2 linked regions of the Homo sapiens genome follow. Changing the gene in region 2 together with the main gene of any one other region gives a genetic interaction. Each region holds a gene or a part of one and is shown on either strand. Other genes may lie near its edges.

Region 1 (3,500 bases), on a different chromosome or scaffold from region 2:
CTCATCCTGCTCTCAGAGTAATTCTCAGGTCCTTCTTAGCCTGTAGGAGGAGGACTTGCAGGGAGGGGAAATCTGTACCTTTTTTTTTTTCTTTTTTTTGATACAAGGTCTTACTCTGTCACCCAGGGTGGAGCATGATCTCAGCTCACTGCATCCTACACCTCCTGGGCTCAAGCCATCCTACTGCTTCAGCCTCCTGAGTAGCTGGTACTACAGGCACACACCACCATGCCTGGCCAATTTTTGTATTTTTTGTAGAGACAAGGTTTTGTCATGTTGCTTAGGCTAGTCTTGAACTTCTGGGCTCAAGCCATCTGCCTGCCTCAGCCTCCCAAAGTGCTGGGATGACAGGTGTGAGCCAGCTATATTGTGGTTTTGCTTCATAATCCATACCCATTGTTTAATCAGTAAAATTGATTGATTATGGAAACAACAGCCTGTCTACAGAGCATCTTGAGCGTATATGTGGTTCAGCAGGTAGAATCTGTAACTGAGCAGATAGAAAGTAGTATCTGGATTTTTTGTTTGTTTGTTTGTTTTTTTGAGACAGTCTCGCTCTATAGCCTAGGCTCGAATGCTCAGGCATGATCATGGCTCACTACAGCCTTGATCTCCCTGGCTCAAGCAATCCTCTTACCTCAGCCTCCAGAGTAGCTAGGACTACAGGCATGCCACCATGCCCAGGTTTTTGTTTTTGTTTTAATTTTTATTATTTGTAGAGACAGAGTCTTACTCTGTTGCCCAGGTGGAATTCTTTATGATCATAATGACTCTTCACTCCAGGGTTTCCCTTTAGTTGTGGTATTTGTATAATCTTTGGTTTGATTGTGAATTTCTATGTAATCTAGCAGCTGTTTTTTGCTATGTCACACCTGCATGCACCTGAGTCTGTGTTCATGGAGTTGGGCATGAGTAGTGTGTTGTGTGAAGGAGGTCAAACATTACTGAGGTGGGTGGCTTAAGGTAGTATATACCAAGTTATGTTTCCTAATTTGAAGATAATCATGCAGGAAAATTTATTATAGGGAAGAGGATGATATGGTGCGGTGAAAAAATGGGGAATTAGGAATCAAAAGGTTTGAGTTCCCACTGCACTGCTGACTTGCTTTCTGATCCTAACAAGTTTCTAACTCCTCCAAGCCTCCATTCATCAGATGATATACAGAAACGCTCTTTCAGGGGGTTGCAAGGATCTAATTAGAGGCTATTGAAGACTCTTTGTACACTGTAAAATGCTATTCAGATATTATTTATTTTAATAAACAGTGATTGCTTTATGTCAGGCTCTTTAACAAAAATTCTTACAATTCAGACCTCCTATCAACACTGCAAAGCAGGCATTATTATCGCCATTAGTCAATAAGGCACCTGGCATACAGAGAGTAACTAAGTAACTTGCTCACCTACTACTTTTAAGTGATGATTCCCAATTTAAGTTCCAGCTGCTTTTTTGCTATGTTGTCGTGCTGTTAATAAAGGATAAATGGTAGAGGTTTGAACTTTAACAACAACTTGGATTATGCTTCTAAAAAAATGGAAGTGGTGCTCTAGACTAGGAGTCAGGAGGTTCAGACTGTTACTATATTTTTCTATTATTTTGGGGTAAGTTACTTAAATTAATTTCATTAAATACGTTTAAAACACTTGGCTATGTTTCTGCTAAGGTTTACATGTAAAATGCTTTCTTATTTTAATCATTTTCAGAATTTAAAAAATTTCCTTCGAAGGGATCAAAAGTATTTTATGAATCTGTTTTAATATTTTTTTTTCTTTTTTTAAAGTCATTCCTACACTGGCCAAGATTACAGTACCCAGGGAAATGTTGGGAAGATTTCTTTAGATCAGATTGATTTGGTAAGTAGAACATTATTTTAAACTTAGAACTTTATCAATGGAGGGAACATAGATTTTCTTAAATCAAAGACTTTTGGGTGAGGAGATAGAATATTATTTCACTGCTTGCTGATTAATTTTAAAGAAAATCCCATGTCCCACTTAGATGATTTTAAAAAAAATCATAAGAAAATCATTTAATCAGAAAATTATCTGTACTTTTATGAAAACAGAATTTAATCAACTATTCCAAACAGGAATTCTTTTAAATAGCTAAATGGAGTTTGTGTTTACATTTAAATAGTGTATACATTTAATAAAGGGGAAATGGAAAACACTAAGTGTATTAGTTTGTTAGGGTTGTCATGACAACGGAAATTTATTTTCTCACAGTCTAGAGGCTCGAAATCCAAGATCAAAGGGATAGTAGGTTTGATTTCTTCCAGGGCCTTTCTTGTCTCACAGATAGCTGCCTTCTCCTTGTGTTCTCCTGTGGTTTTCCCACTGCTTGCATACATCCCTGGTGTCTCTTCTTTTTGTAAGGACACTGAGTATGTGAGACCAGGGCCCCACCCCCATGGCCTCCTTTAATCTTAATGAGTTCTTTAAAGGCCCCATCTCTAAATATAGTCACATTTGGAGCTACTAGAGGTCAGGACTTGATATATGAATTTCAGGGGGAGAGGACAATTCATCATCCAGTGTAGGCTACGAGATTAATAGATAGCTTATTTTAGCATCATTTGACTTTGTGGTTCCATAGGGTAGCGTACTTTGCCATACTTGTAGAATTTCTCTTTAATACATAACAGCATTTGCACTCCATACACAAAGGGAAAATAAGCCAGCCATAAATAATCTTGGGTTAGACAACTACCAAATTATTCACAATAAATTAAAAATACACAGGGATTTTAATGCTTGGAAACAAGAACTGTAATAAGACTAGTAGAGAAAGAACGTGAGTTTGGATCAGAATGAATAGGTCGTCTTCCATTTGAAAAATTATAAAAAAGTACTTGCAGTTAATATGTCTAGAAATAACAGTAGGGTTGCCTACTTTACACAGTTGATTTGTTGATTTGAAATTTGTTCTCAAAGATGTCCCATCTTTTAATTTTTTTATTAAACACTTATCTCTAACAGTCCACTTTCTCACTTCCACTCATGTGATTTGTGCTTATATAATGTGAATGGTTGGAGGTTAATTCTGTTCTTAGTTCTAGCTAGATGTTTCCCTATTCACAAGCAAATGTGAATTTCATTGGATACTGTTGGAGTTCATAGAAATATTAATTCATTTAATGGATATGTATTGAGCCCATCAGTTATGTAGCAGCCATTGTGCTGTGGATACAGAAGTGAGGAAAACAGAAAATGTCCCTGCCTTCATGGACCTTACATGAGGGAGAGGGACAACATAATAAATAATAAATGAGCAATATAATGTTAAGTGCTATGATGATGATCCTGTCATGGGTCTGTGCCTGAGACCCCGTGGTGAGTAATACAGATGTATCTTTTTCTGGACTGCCTCCTAACTCTGTATCTATATTGTTTGATCTTCACAACAGCATGTCATTTGCATATCCCTTGGTATTTGCAACTCTTCTCCAAATGTTTTCTTTAGTTTTTTCTTCTAACAAATCTGGCTTTCTCAATGCTGT
Region 2 (3,500 bases):
ACGTTATGGCAGCTCTGTATACAGTTTGATCTCATGTACTGAAAAAAAATTCTTAATTTTATTGGAGTTTATACCACTGTGAAACTGCAATATGACTGTAAGAGAGTAAAAAGATTGTTACATCTATATTGTATGTGTGTACTTAATGGTTAAAAAGCAATGATAAAACTGGACATTAATGAAATTGATTTTTAGTTACAGTTGGAATAAGTTTTTTACCAAAAAGAAACCAGAGACGTTAGTTAAGGAGACTTAAAAAGATCTGAAATATGAAAAGAGAATGAGAAGATGAGCAGAAGATAAATTTGTGGGACACAAGTATAACTTGGGGTAGAAACTGGAGAAGAGAATCGAAAAACAATAATGCCAGAAGGACCCTTGGTATGAAAGTACTAATGGAATGTGATTCATAGAAAGTTCATAGAAAGTGAGTCCTTGCAACTTGAGAAACATACATACATATATATTTATAATCTCTAAAGCAACATCAGGAATCTTCTAATATATGATAAAGAATTTGTGTAGAATTACGTTGTTCACAGTATTATTGGAGAGACAAATAAGATTTCAAGGAATTCATTTATAATCAAAAGTGAAATGTGTCTTCTTGAAACCAGCAAGAAATAGATGAATTGAGTGAAACGTGTTGTTATTAGGAGAAGTGGGATAACGTATACAAAAAGAACTTGCGATCTGAATATGATCTGAATATGAGGGTGGATAGGAATTTTTTGACAGTGAAATCTGTTATGATGTAGTCTCATTTCCAAGAAAAGTCTTGAGTTCCATCCCCCCTTCTGAATTTAAATTGAAACCTGGACAGAAAACAAACTATCCTGTAGTTTCCACTGCTCAGGAGGAAAAAAAGAAATCTATATTATCTAATGCATCTTTGCCATCTTTATTTTCTAGAATTCTATTAGACTTTTCAATTATAGGCTATTAGGAAAGAATATAACTCTTAGAATTCCCCTAAATATAATTATCAACTCATTTGATTAATATGCATATTTTTTCCCGTAAGATTTACAATACACGTGTGTTTTAGTGAATTACCAATGGCTTGGAGAGAATGAAATTGGAATAACTAACTGAAAACCCTAGATGTTTGTAGCATTGAGACCCAATATCTTTTTGGAGGCCCTCTCCATGTTAGCTTATTGTCAAATTCTGGTGTGTAAACAAACTCCTTGACCCATGTTAAGTTCAGCATCCTGCATTTTGTTCATGAATCACATTTTAAAAGGAGAAAAGCTCCACCTGGTTTTCTTTATTTTTTTAAACAGTGATTTCAAAGAGAAGATAGGCCTTTCATAATTGCTAATTATACATATAGGATTAATAGTCATAAATTATAGTAAATAAAACTTGTACCTATTCCTTTTATAAATATGAATTGGCTAGGCACAGTGGCTCACAGCTGTAATCCCAGCACTTTGGGAGGCTGAGGCGGGCAGATCACAAGGTCAGGTGTTTGAGACTAGCCTGGCCAACATGGCAAAACCCTGTGTCTACTAAAAATACAAAAATTAGCCAGGCGTGGTGGCAGGCACCTGTAATTCCAGCTACTCAGGAAGCTGGGGCACGAGAATCACTTGAACCCTGGTGGCAGAGTTTGCAGTGAGCTGAGATTGTTCCACTGCATTCCTGGGCACTGCCTGGGTGACAGAATGAGACTCTGCCTCAAAAAAAAAAAAAGTTATTAAAAATAGATATTTAAGATTCCAAAATGTAGTTGATCCAGTTTGTTTCCCTGTAGCAAGTAGTGGGATTTGGGTTTCATGACATATAATTAAAATGTTAATCACATAACTATAATGCCAACAATTTTCTTTATACATTTTTGTTTAATTATGTTGACATATACTTTGTGTTGTACCTTATTTCATGTTACTAAATTTTACATAAAGATGCTGGTCTATTTTTATTTAATCATATACTGTTATGGTTTGAATATAGTTTGTTCCTACCAAAACTCATGTTGAAATTAGATTCCCCATGTGCTAGTGTTGGGAGGCAGAGCCTAATGGAAGGTGTTTGGGTCATGGGGGCAGATAGATCCCACATGAATAAACTAATGCCCTCCTACTGGGGTGAGTGAGTTCTCATTCTTGCTGTCGTGGGAATGGATTAGTTCTCACAAGCAAGGGTTACTAAAGAGTCTGGCTTTCTTGATTTTCTCCTTTTTGCCTCCTGCCTTCCCATGTGATCTCTTTGCACATACCTACTCCCCTTTCACTTTGTACCAAGAGTGGAAGCAACATGAGACCCTCACCAGATACAGCTGCCCAATCTTGAGCCTTCCAGCCACCAGAATCATGAGCCAAATAAAACTCTTTTTAAAAATAAGTTACCCAGTCTTAGATATTCTATTATAGCGACACAAAATGGACTAAGCTGTACTCTGTTGCATTAAAATGTGTTGTTTATATGCAAGTGACAAAAACTCAAAATAGTGTCAGCATGAAGGGCAGTTCATTGGCTTATATACAGGGAAGTCCAGGCAATGACTGGGTCCTGGGTCCAAACGTCAAAAGCAGTCATCTTGCCATCCTACACACTTGGCTCTGATTATTTTCTTCTTTATGGATTGGTTTTCTTTTCAGATTTTCCCTTTGGGGATATTCTGTATGGGATGAGGAACAGTGAGGTGAGAGGATGGTGGATAACAGCAATTGACATTTTCAGCTTACCTTAGCATAACAAGGCTGAAAGCTTTTATAAAGCAAGCTATGTAAAATTTTGGAGAAGTACTTTTATTTTGCCCAGATTGGATCACATTCCGTTCCTGAGCTAATCAAGAGAGGAATTCACCCAAAGGAGGGGGAAATTTTTAGAAGAAAGCCAGAATGTAGGGAGCAGGTGAGGAAAGGTAGTTACTGGGAATACGAAAGTAACACATTCATTGCACCCTGTTTGAATTTGAGTAGCAAGAAGTTTCTGATTTGTACTAACAGAAGGAGTAAAGTTCAGATTTAATCTGCAAGTCTTGATTGTTTTTAACTAGAGATTTTAATCTCTTCTTCTTATTATTGCTGCTTTGAGTTGCCATTATAGGTTTTTGGATTTTTTTTTTAATGCCATCCATTTTTATTTGACATCATGTTGTTGCTAGTTTGAGCAGATGCACATAGCATATGTTTCCATTACCAATTTGGAAATTTTTCCCAGTGGCATCAGCATTTGAGAGATACTGATTTTGAAATTAGAGTACTAGGGGAAAATGCTTCAAAAATGAAGACTACTTAAATAAAAATTGGCTTTAAATAAACCTTTGGGGATCTGTACTTGACTAAAAAGTATTTTCTTTAAACTTTGGTCTTTGAAAACTAAAGTGTGTGTGCATGTGTTCATTAAAATGACCTATAACATGAACATTTTCCATACTGGAGTGTGATGTACTGTACTCATTTTGAACTTTAGAACCAAATGCATCCTTTAGCATTTGATGAGCTGCTATATAATTCTATTTCCAGTTTTATTTTCTTGCCAAATAAAGT

What was found. A genetic interaction does not mean that the proteins touch.
Region 1: changes in ZNHIT6 (region 2) and PRIM2 together harm fitness less than expected from each alone (positive genetic interaction), as found in Homo sapiens cells (one large-scale study listed by BioGRID).

What each region holds. Positions count from the first base shown.
Region 1 is NC_000006.12:57,530,630-57,534,129, forward strand, and holds part of PRIM2 (DNA primase large subunit), read left to right. Parts: intron 1-1,781; coding exon 1,782-1,854; intron 1,855-3,500. UniProt on the Homo sapiens protein: Regulatory subunit of the DNA primase complex and component of the DNA polymerase alpha complex (also known as the alpha DNA polymerase-primase complex) which play an essential role in the initiation of DNA synthesis.
Region 2 is NC_000001.11:85,649,434-85,652,933, reverse strand, and holds part of ZNHIT6 (box C/D snoRNA protein 1), read left to right. Parts: 3' UTR 1-3,500. UniProt on the Homo sapiens protein: Required for box C/D snoRNAs accumulation involved in snoRNA processing, snoRNA transport to the nucleolus and ribosome biogenesis.